Linked DNA regions of Homo sapiens: region 2 is linked to region 1. The links come from fine-mapping of genetic effects on gene expression. A gene starts in region 1. The other region holds a variant in brackets. All regions are shown on one strand. Distances are between the middles of the regions. Region 1 holds the start of DRC11 (dynein regulatory complex subunit 11). Region 2 has its middle 31 kb from the start of DRC11.

The links.
Region 2: its variant is fine-mapped to the expression of DRC11 in esophagus muscle (GTEx, PIP 0.90).

What each region holds. Positions count from the first base shown.
Region 1 is chr2:236,504,888-236,510,263 of GRCh38, forward strand. It overlaps DRC11 (dynein regulatory complex subunit 11), which reads right to left and starts at 2,589. Exons shown (of 19, transcript NM_024726.5): 1 at 2,370-2,589. The coding sequence starts at 2,380. RefSeq lists a silencer at 2,715-2,764.
Region 2 is chr2:236,535,314-236,540,689 of GRCh38, forward strand. It overlaps a transcript of ACKR3 not described here. Among named protein-coding and RNA genes, the nearest start is that of DRC11, 31 kb to the left of the region's middle. RefSeq lists enhancers at 1,578-1,797, 2,901-2,950. The variant T/C (reference allele first, on the strand shown) is at 2,389.

The DNA.
Region 1 (5,376 bases):
GTTTCCTAAGGACTTCCCAGTCCTGCAGAACTGTTAGTCAATTAAACCTCTTTCCTTTATAAATCACCCAGTCTCGGGTATGTCTTTATTAGCAGTGTGAGAACAGACTAATACAGATGGAACAACAGGTGTGAAAGTGTTCCTGGAATTTTAAATGCACTTTGCAAACAGAAGGTAATATTTTATCCATGAGACTACTTAACAGTTTTTGAAAGTATATGATTGGTTTCAGACTTGAGCATATGACTTAGAGATATGACAGATTTTGAAGTCAGGAGGCTTGTGGATGAAGACTGAATATGACAGTTAAAAAGACCAGACTGTTATTTCTACAGCTTGGCAGTTTTCCTATAACGGAGTGGGTAGGGGAGGGAAACACTTGAATATTCACTTGAATATATGCACTTCCGTGGGAACTCAAAATATTGCACAATGGGAATTCTTTTCAAGTTATTTTGCACAAGATAAAACCTTCTGAATCTTCCAATCTTAACTAGTTTGCTGTCTTCTTCCCCAAATACTCCCCCTGCCTTCTTGCTCTACGGAAGGCCTGTCTCTGCTCAGAAGCCCTCTCAGTAGAGGCTCCTGTTACCCCCAGAGCCCTCTGTCTCTGGCTGTGGGGCTGGGTCAAGGGGACCCCTTCTCTTCACTGCACCTCCAGACATTTGCCTTCCCTCCTCCCAACACTCCCAGGCTTTGAATCCCATTTCATCTGATGCTGTCACCACTGCCCCTCAGTCACCATCATCTTCCATCTACCATGATCGTTCCAGGCCACCTCCAGAGCACCCACCCACTGAATAGCATCTTGATGCTGCCTTCCTACCTGTTCCATTGTTAAGTGCTGAGTTCCTCTACCTAAGGCCAGCACCCCCTGGATCCCATGTCCTCTCACTACCAACGATGTCACCCACTTCTCCCTCCTCCTCCTATATCATTCTGGGCCATTCCCTTCCACACACAAACATTCTATTGTTTTCTGTCTTGGAGCCATGTCCTCTGCCTCTAGCTGCCAACATATTTCCTTTCCTCTGCAGCAAAACTCCTTTAAAGAGTTAGCTATGCTCACCATCTATAGTTTCTCTCCCCCTACATTCACTTGAGTAAGTCTTTCTATCTCATCATACCACTGAATCAGCTCCTGTCAAGGTCACTGGTGAACTCCACACTGCCAAATCAACAGTCAGTTCTCAGTTCTACCCCAACTTGTCTCAGGAGCACTTGATGGAGGAGAAAGAAGTTACTTCTCCTGGAAACACTATTATTTCTTCCACTCGCTTCTTCCTCATGGATCATGTCTTTGATTCCTTTGCCAGGTCTCCTCTTCCCCCAGCCTTACTGTGGATGATCCCAGGATCAGTCCTTACACCTCTTTATTAATATTCATTCTATGTCTCACAAAGACCATCACAGGCTGACAGTGAGCAAGTTTATATTTCAGACATGGGTCTCGCTCCTGAACCCAAGATCTGAATATTTTAATTGCCTATTTCATCTCCACGTGATGTCCAATGGGCACTTCCAACTCAATACGTCTTAAACAGAACTCTTGATCTTCCCCATTTCCAAACCCTGGCAAGCCTTTAACCTCTCTGCTCTTATTTCCTTGCCTAGAATACAGGGCACGTAATAGCAACAGTGCAGGCTGGAGCTACAGTGCCCGGCTTGGCACTGTTCACTTGCTGTGTGAACTACTTCACCTCTTCATCCCCAAGTTCCCTCATCTGTAAAATGGAAATAACAATATTAACAGCCCCTACGTTACAGGGTTGCTGTGAAGCGGTTAGAACAGTGTCTACAGGGTCAGCGCTGTAATACCTGTTGGAAATTATTCTTACGAAGACCAAATGAGGTAACTTTGTGCAAGTGCTGTGTAAACGACACAGTGCTAGGCACACACTTCTTTCAGTACCAATGCCACTCGAGTCTGTGAAAAGCAAATGTCAATAATGCTTTCCCAAGATCTTTCTAGACTTAAATTTCAGGACCTAGGTGTTTCCACAAAGCACCGTATTTGTTACCGTGAAAGATTAACAAAAAAAGCAGACAAAATGGCATAGTGCTTCTCAGCAATAGCCCCTAAGGGCTTGGCAGGTATACGGAAGACTGGGAGCTCATCCCCATGGGGTGGTGGGACGCGTAGGGGAGGGGGAGATCTAAGTGTATGATTTTCCTTGCTCACAAGAAGCAGATACTCTATCCCGAGGCATATTTGAATTTCCTAAAAGGAAAAAAAGTGGGGGAGAGGAGGGAAGTTGAGAGGGGAGGAGAAAAGAAAAGAAAAAAGAAAATAAGAGAAGCAGAAAGCAAGCCACCTTCTGGCTTGGGGAAGCCCACTCCATGGCTGTGGCTGGGAGCCCATCACTTACGCGTTCGACATTGCTGGCTACTTTCCCTCTTTTCCTCGCCCTCCGGGAAGCTCTTCCGTTGCTCTCTGAAGGACGGTGGCAGCAGGGGTCAGGGCACTACCAGGAGCTACAGAGGATTTGGGTGGGGGGTCTTCTGGAGGGAGAAACCAGGACTGCGAGAATCTTCTGCTTCGGGCAGGAAAAGGTGAGGCCGGGTTTGCTTCGCAGGCACGGAGCGCGCAGGCGCAGAGAGGTGTTTCACTCCTTCCCGTCGCGACCCAGAGACTCGCGAACCTCACTTCGGCCACTCAGGTGGGCGCGACGCGGCCCTAGCAACGGAAACGCCGCGCCTGCGCATTGCCTTCCGCCTGCCCCCTCCCCCCCCCCGCCCCCCGCATTCCGCGCCTGCGCCACCGCGGGAGGCCTGGGTGGGCGCAGCTGTGGGAGCCGGTCGGAGTCCGAGCGCTCCGTCGCGGGGCCCGGCCGCTTGGCGAGCCTGCTCCGGGCCCCAGCACTTAGCCTGTGGTCCTCCAGGCCGTCTTCCCGCTTTCCTGCTGGCCCCATTTTCATCCACTGTCAGCTCTGCGGCCTTGGGCAAGGCCCTTAATGATGGTGGTCTTCAGTTTTCCCATCTGTAAACTGGGTATAACAGTCGTTCGTTCAGAACTTTACTGGGCATCTATTCTGGGCCAAGTGCAGACTTAGATTCTGGGCACCCAAGACTTAGGCAGACGCGCCCTTCGGAGACTTAATGAGTATGAACTAAGGCGCGGGTGCGTTGTAAATGTAAAATGCAGTGTGGATGCTATTAACAGTTATCCGTAAGTCGCTATGAGTGTTGGCTTTCATTGCTCTTCTTTCTTCGACTTTAGTAACTGTTGAGGTTTATTTGCACATTTTAGACCCTGCAGCTCCTATTGGAACGCCAGGTTTAATGCTGTCAAAGGCGTGGAGAGGACATCCAGGTAAAAATTATAATCAGGATCACAAAACCTCTCCCCCACCATTACTAATGAAATGCGCAAAAGCATAGTAAAAGCCAGCCCTCCGCACCGCCTTCAAATAATGGAGCAAATTATTTCTCAGACGAGAAATTGAGTACAACCTTGTACCGTAAACTTCAAAAACTCAGTGAAATAGCAGCTTGCCGTGGAGAATGGTGTCCAGCCTCATCTCCACCCTCCCAAAGCCCTTCAGGGGGCAGAGACCAAGTAGACACAACACCAAGAATTCTCATTAATGCTTTTTGATGCAAAGAATACACACACTGAAAAGAAGGGGTATGAAAGGGTGAGCCGAACGAGGAAACACCTGGGGAAATCCGGCCAGATAAAACCATCCTGAGTGGAGGTCAATCCCTACCGCTCCCAGGACCTGAGCAGGGACAGGAGAAATCTCCAGGGCTTGCCTTTTTCTAGGTCCCTACATTGAATTGAGGCAAAGATTCAAAGTCAAAGGGCATGTTGTCACAGGAATAGGGCACACTCGTGACAAGAGTGGGAGGATGGTGGTAAAGGAGCTTATCAAAATCTCAGAAGAGAGCACAGAGCCTGGAAGTTGTGTGGATTCAAGGGAGCAGTCCTTATCCTAAATGTGTACTCAGGTTCCAGAAAAGCAGAGAAAAGTGCAGTATCTCAGCTCTGGAACTCAGATACAGTGAGAAGACAGTCAAAGAGAATTCGCCCACATTATATTTGAACAAACAGAACATTTTCAAAGAGCAACACGTGTTAAATAGGAATAAGACAGAAAGAAGCAGCATATCCACTGTCTAAAACCAAGACTTTCATAAAAGTAGAAGAAAAGAAAGGATTATAACATAGGCCAGACAAGTGAAAGAAAGTCTGGAGAAAATCTAACCAAATAAATAAAAGCAGAAAAATCTTTTTTGTTTGTTTGTTTTGAGATGGAGTCTCCCCCTGTCACCCAGGCTGGAGTGCAGTGTGTGATCTCGGCTCACGGCAACCTCCACCTCCCGGGTTCAAGCAATTCTCCTGCCTCAGCCTCCCACGTAGCTGGGATTACAGGCGCCTACCACCATGCTCAGCTAATTTTTTGTATTTTTAGTAGAGACAGGGTTTCACCATGTTAGTCAGGCTGGTCTGGAACTCCTGACCTCAGGAGATCTGCCCGCCTCGGCCTCCCAAAATTCTGGGATTACTGGCGTGAGCCATCGCGCCCTGCCAAAACAGAAAAATCTTTACTTGTGCTCCATGCTATAGAATAAGCTAATAAGAACATTAAGGTAATAAAATAAGAACTGGGAGAAAATATAAAACAATGGAATGAGAAAGGAAGGAAGATTACACAGCTAAGGAAACCAAAAGAAAAACAGAAGTAGTGCAATACAGAAAATAAGTTGGAAAAACCAAGAAATAGACCAGGCACAATTCAGCTGAATTACTGACTTAGAGGAAAAACCTGACTCAATTACAGTAAATGTAGAGAGGAAAGAGTGAGACACCTGAGCAATTTACAAAAAGGGTTAGTTGATATTCCTGCAAGAAAGACCTTCAACATTAGACTATTTTCAGAGATACAAGAAATGTTTTTGAAATAAAAGAATTAAATCTGCAGATCAGAAATTCTCACTGTGTTCCAGGGAAAACTGATATACAACACTCAACATCAGGAAATGTCCTGGATACATTATTGAACTTCAAAGAGAAATGGTAGGAGAAATCTGGCTAGCCTCAGATTTTGATGTCAGATGAAAATGAAGCAATATTTACAAAGTTCTTGGGGAAAAGTGTGACCCAAGACTATTTCTACTCATTCACGTTAATAGTCCCAATATGAAAGCCTTCAGGAGATACAGCACTCATGTGCAGATTGACGTGTTAACAAATGCAAATAATAGAAACCCAGTGAACATTGGCTTAAACAATAGGAAGATTTAAAATCTCCCTTAACACCAAGAATAGAGGTGGTGGCTCATGATCTCAGTGGCTCAGTGACATCATCAAGGATCAGTCTTCAATGGTCTTTCCATCTTTTGGAGCTGTCATAGTAACCATACGAAATGACT
Region 2 (5,376 bases), 30 kb after region 1:
GAGGCAGGCATGGGTGTGTGTGAGGCCCTGGGTGTAGAATCAACCGAAAGTGGAGGCTTGCTAAGAAGACTCTATCTCCAATAAATCAGCTACCTGTGGGTCTGACTCCAGTCAAGATTGGCACCAGACTACCCTGGCTGAAGTGTCAGGGCCTCCCATCAAGGTCACGCATGGAAGGAGGAATCCGAGGGAAGCTGGGGAAGGTTGCTGGCTTCTCGCCTTGGGTGGAAAGGCGGAAGCCCTGGGGTGGGGGTTTAGGAGCAGTGCTTCTGTCCCCGCAGAGTTGGCTTGGCCATGACGGAAGAAAGCCCGGATCTCAAGCTGGGGCCTTCCAGAGGAAGGGGAGTGCTGATGTCAGGCAATCAGTCATGGAACTTTGATGTTGGGATCCAGTCCCTTGGGAGGGGAGTCCTTTTTTTTAAACTTTTAAGTTCAGGGGTACATGTGCAGGTTTGTTACATAGGTAAACTTGTGTCAGGGGGGTTTGTGGTACAGATCATTTAATCACCTAGGTATTAAGCCTAGTACGCATTTGTTATTTTTCCTGGTCCTCTCTCTCCTCCCATTCTCTACCTCATGATAGGCCCCAGTGGAGTAGGGGACCTTCTGAGTCCTGAGTCACAGCAGCTTTTATAAAGACAGGTTTTTCTTGGTGTCCGGTAGGCTCCCCTAGCTGGGCCAGCAGAGGGAGGTGGGTGCAGAGGATGGTGGGGAGGGCAGTGGGAGGAAAGGGAGACAGACAAGAGCAAGGGCTCCTGCTGGAGACTGGGTTCCTCCCAGGTATTAGGCCTAGCATGATGGGGTTTGTTCGGGGAGCTCATATCAGGGAACAGGAGCAGGGCTGAGAGAGTGAAGTGGGGAGAAGGGCAAGGTCTTCCACAGTGCTTCCTCAGGCTGGCCGCCACTGTGGGCTGCCGGATCCCATCCACTGGGCACTGAGGAGCTGGGGGGGACTTGCCTCTCAGAGTGGTCTGCCTGAGGACAGAAGGAGGAGCCGTCATCCAGTACATGCCTTCCCTTGGTCCAGGGCTGCCACACAGAGTCATTCCCAGGCTGTGTGGGCACCATGCGTGTGTCATAGAAAAGGTGCCCACAGGTACCTCCTGCAGGAAGCTTGTTGCTGCCACAGTGGCTGGAGTAAAAGGTGGGATGAGAAGCCGTGACGTTGAGTTCAAGCAGAGAGCTCTGTGATATGACGGGAACAAGAAAGGCTTCTGCACTGTTCATGAACTTGGTTGTAGCTTGTGGGTAACCCATGTCTTTCTATCTGGGGGAGGGAACATTGATCACCTTCAATTCCTGGGTTTCTGCTAGATGACCTGATTCCGGGGGAAGGTACCAGCTTTGGGAGTCAAGAAAAGCAACTCACCTAACGTATCTATCTGAGTCTTAGTCTTCTCACCTGTAAAATGGGAATAATAATTTATTTCCTATCTCCTGGGTATTGTGAGTTAATAGGGAATTACAATAATAAATTTCCAAAGGAAATGCCTTGCAGTGTGTAAATCCCTCTGCAGGTGTGAAGTGAAACTAATAGTGAAACACAGACGCATGTGAACTGTCGGCAGTTATGACAGCTGGCCCCTTGAGGGTTCTAGGTGCCTAGAGACTGTCTGGCACTTTTATATGCATAATATCATCTCATCCTCCTTGCAGCTCCTATGGCAGTCACTGTTATTATTCCCATTTACAGATGAGGACACAGAAACTCAGAGAGAGCAAGGGCCTTGCCCTGGGCCCTGCAGGAAGTGGTATTGGGAGGCTCCACGCTGCCTGTCTGCATTGCAGAAGCTCAGCCCCTTTCCTGCCCCAAATCTCTCACCACTGCTTGGTTAAACACGGTGTTACCTGGCTGTGTAGCACTGTGGCAAGCGGTCTACTAATCCTGATTGGATTCTAGGAATACCAGCAATGGGATGGCTGCCACCTGCTGACAGGGAGAATGGAGGAGGCCAAGGTCAAGCCCAGGGGCAGCCTGCCTTGGTCCTAAGTGTGAGCGGCTGGTGGAGATGAGCCAGGAGGAGGCAGAAGCTGGTAAGGAGGCTGGTTTTGCCTAGTACAAGGATTGTTACCAGGGCTCCATGAATAGGCTTGGGGCAGTGTCTCAGCCTCTCGAATGGCCTGTAAATGTATGGGCCCATGGGTGCATATGCTTTTTTCTAGGAAGCAGGTTCATCATTTTTATTAGTGTCATAATAATCCATGACCCTGAAGTTTGAACAGCAGTTCTCCATTGGGCCACCCTGGCATAAATGCAAGTGGTACAGGGCCCCTTGGATATCTCTGTACACATTGAGACCTGGACAACTTGTCCTTCTGAATGGCTTAAATCCCAAGAATTTTGCCTCTTTACGTGGCTGCTTTAATTTTATGTTTTTACCTTTTTGC[T/C]ACTATTACTTATGAGCCAGAATTAGGAATTTTCCAAGAACTGGAGGGAGGGAAAATGTGTCCCAGCTTCATCACCCACGTGCTCTCTTCCACCGCCTTTACTTTTGTCTGCATTTTCTCCAAAAGGGTTAATGTTCTTATCAAATTCAGTTTTCTTTCTTTCACTAATGCGTATTCATGCTCTTTCAAGCAAGCAAGCAAATGTGCTTCTATTAGGCAATCAGTTCTGCAGATTACATTTTTTTAGTTGCTAGGCTAGAAAAATAAAAATAACCTAATAAGAAAGTGTTTATGTTGGAAGTAGGTATTCCAAAAAGAATAGTTCTTTTAAAAATAATTCCCCAAACAACTCTTAACAGGTCTTGATTCAAAGAGGTTTTGTTTTCTTTTTTTTTTCTAGCGTGAAAAGCAATATACATAAGCCAGATCCTTTCCTTGGGCAGCGTGGTTAATACTAGCACACATCACACCTGGTATTTGACTTCTCAGAAACTTGCTAAAAACCTTGTGTGGCCATAATCCCTGACTTGATTAACTGTTATTGAGTGTGTTCTGCAAAGTAACAGGAGCTTTAGATGTCTCCTGAAAAGAAAAGCAGAACAGACACAGATTGCCGAAATGAAACAGCAACACAGTGATGATATATTTTCACAACTTGAAATACTAAAAACGTGGTCAAAAGGATCCATCCGAGTCAGAGATTGGGCTCTGTCTGTGGCCACAGCGGAAGCCAGGTGCTGTGGGCTCACCACCCTGACCTTGGATGGATGGCAAGACTTGCCACCCCCACCCTCCTACTGAGGAGTCCCTTGGAGAAATCAATGGCAAAACTGGCCCCAAGCATGGAAAGGGGCTGCAGTTCTAAGGTGGACCGGGGCAGAGCTTGCTTTCTGTCTTCTGAGAAGTGGCTGGGGTAAGACCAAGTCTAGTGGACCTCTTGATGAGTAGATATCTGCCCTGCCCTTAAAAAGCCAACAGCAAACTACAGTGTAGGCACGGTTGCCAGATAAAATACAGACTGCCTAATTAAAATTGAATCTCAGATGAACAAGGAATAGTTTTTCAGTATAAGTATGTTCCATGCAGGTAGATGTCATGCATATTTCTGATATTGCTTGGGATATTCTTATCCTAAGAAGTGATGTGTGGTTTCCCTGAGATTGAAACTTAGCTGAGCATCCTGTATTTTTATTTGCTAAGCCTGGATACTCTAGCTCAGGGCAAAGTAGGCGCGGACAGGCTGTGTTGGCTCACCTTTCTGGTCAGGGCTATAGATTGTGCTCTCAGGTTCTAGGACTTCATGTAGCTGGAATGATGCAGTATGCCTTCTTTTGTGTCTTGCTTCTTTTACTTGGTATATTATTTTGAGATTCATCCCTGTTGCTGCCTCTATTGTAGTTTGTTCCTTTTTATTATTGAGTAGTATTCTACTGTAAGAAAATACTACAGTTTATTATCACGTCTGGATGGGCCTTTGGGTTGTTTCCAGTTCTTGTCTATTGTGAATAATACTTCTATGAGTTTTGATAGACACATTTGTGTGTGTGTGTGTGTCTCTCTCTCTCTCTCTCTCTTTGTGTAAACATTATTTTCATTTTTCTTTTCTTTTTTTTTTTTTTTTTTGTTTTTTAGACAGAGTCTCACTCTGTCACCCAGGCTGGAGTGCAGTGGTGCGATCTCGGCTCACTGGAACCTCTGCCTCCTGGGTTCAAGCAATTCTCCTGCCTCAGCCTCCCTAGCAGCTGGGATTACAGGTGTTCACTACCACGCCTGGCTAGTTTTTGTATTTTTAGTAGAGGTAGGGTTTCACCATGTTGCCCTGGCTGGTCTCGAACTCCTAACCTCAAGTGATCCACCTGCCTCAGCCTCCCAAAATGCTAGGATTATAGGCATGAGCATCCGCCTTGGCCTCCCAAAGTGCTGGAATTACAGGCATGAGCCACCACATCCAGCCATTATTTTCATTTTTCTTGGGTAAATACCTAATAGTATAATTGCTGGATCTTATATTGTATTAGTCTGTTCTCATGATGCTAATAAAGACATTTCTGAGACTGGGTAATTTATAAAGGAAAGAGATTTAACTGACTCACAGTTCTACATGGCTGGAGAGGCCTTACAATCATGGAGGAAGGCAAAGGAGATGCAAAGGGACGTCTTACATGGCAACAGGCAAGAGAGCATGTGCAGGGGAACTCCCATTTATAAAACCATCAGATCTCATGAGATTTATTCACTACCATGAGAACAGAATGGGGAAAACTGCTCCCATGATTCAACTATCTCCACCTTGCCCCGTCCTTGACACAGGAGGATTATTACATTTCAAGGTGAGATTTGGGTGGGGACACAGCCAACTGTATCATATAGTAAGTGTACATTTAACTTTATAGGAAACTGCAAAACAGTTTTCCAAAATGGCTGTACCATTTTACACTGTGGCCAGCAATATGTGAGTATTCCACTTGTTCCTCATTCTTGCCAACACTCGACGTTGTCTGTGTTTTTATTTAGTTATTGTAGTAATTGTAAAATAGTGTCTAAGAATTGTGGTTCTAATTTGTGTTTCTCTGATGATAATTCAGTTGAAAATCTTTTCATTTGCTTAATGACCATTCATGTATGTAAATAAATTTTGTGTTCGTCTTTTGTCTGTTTTTTTTTTTGTTAGGTTATGTGTCTTCTTATTGAGTTATACGGGTTCTTTCTATATTCTGGACACCAGCCCTTTGCAGATATCTTTCTCCAGTCTCTGACTTGCCTCTTCATTTTTATAGGTGTCTTTTGAAAAGCAGCAGGTTTTACTTTGATTAACTCAAATTTGTCATTTTTTACATTAATGTTTAGTGTTTTTCATGTTCTAAGAAATCTTCCTGCCTCAAGGTCACAGAACATTTATTTCCTTATATAAGTTATATAATTTAATCTTTTACATTTACATCTAGGATCCATTTGGAATGAATTTAATGTGTGGTGCAAAATAAGGGT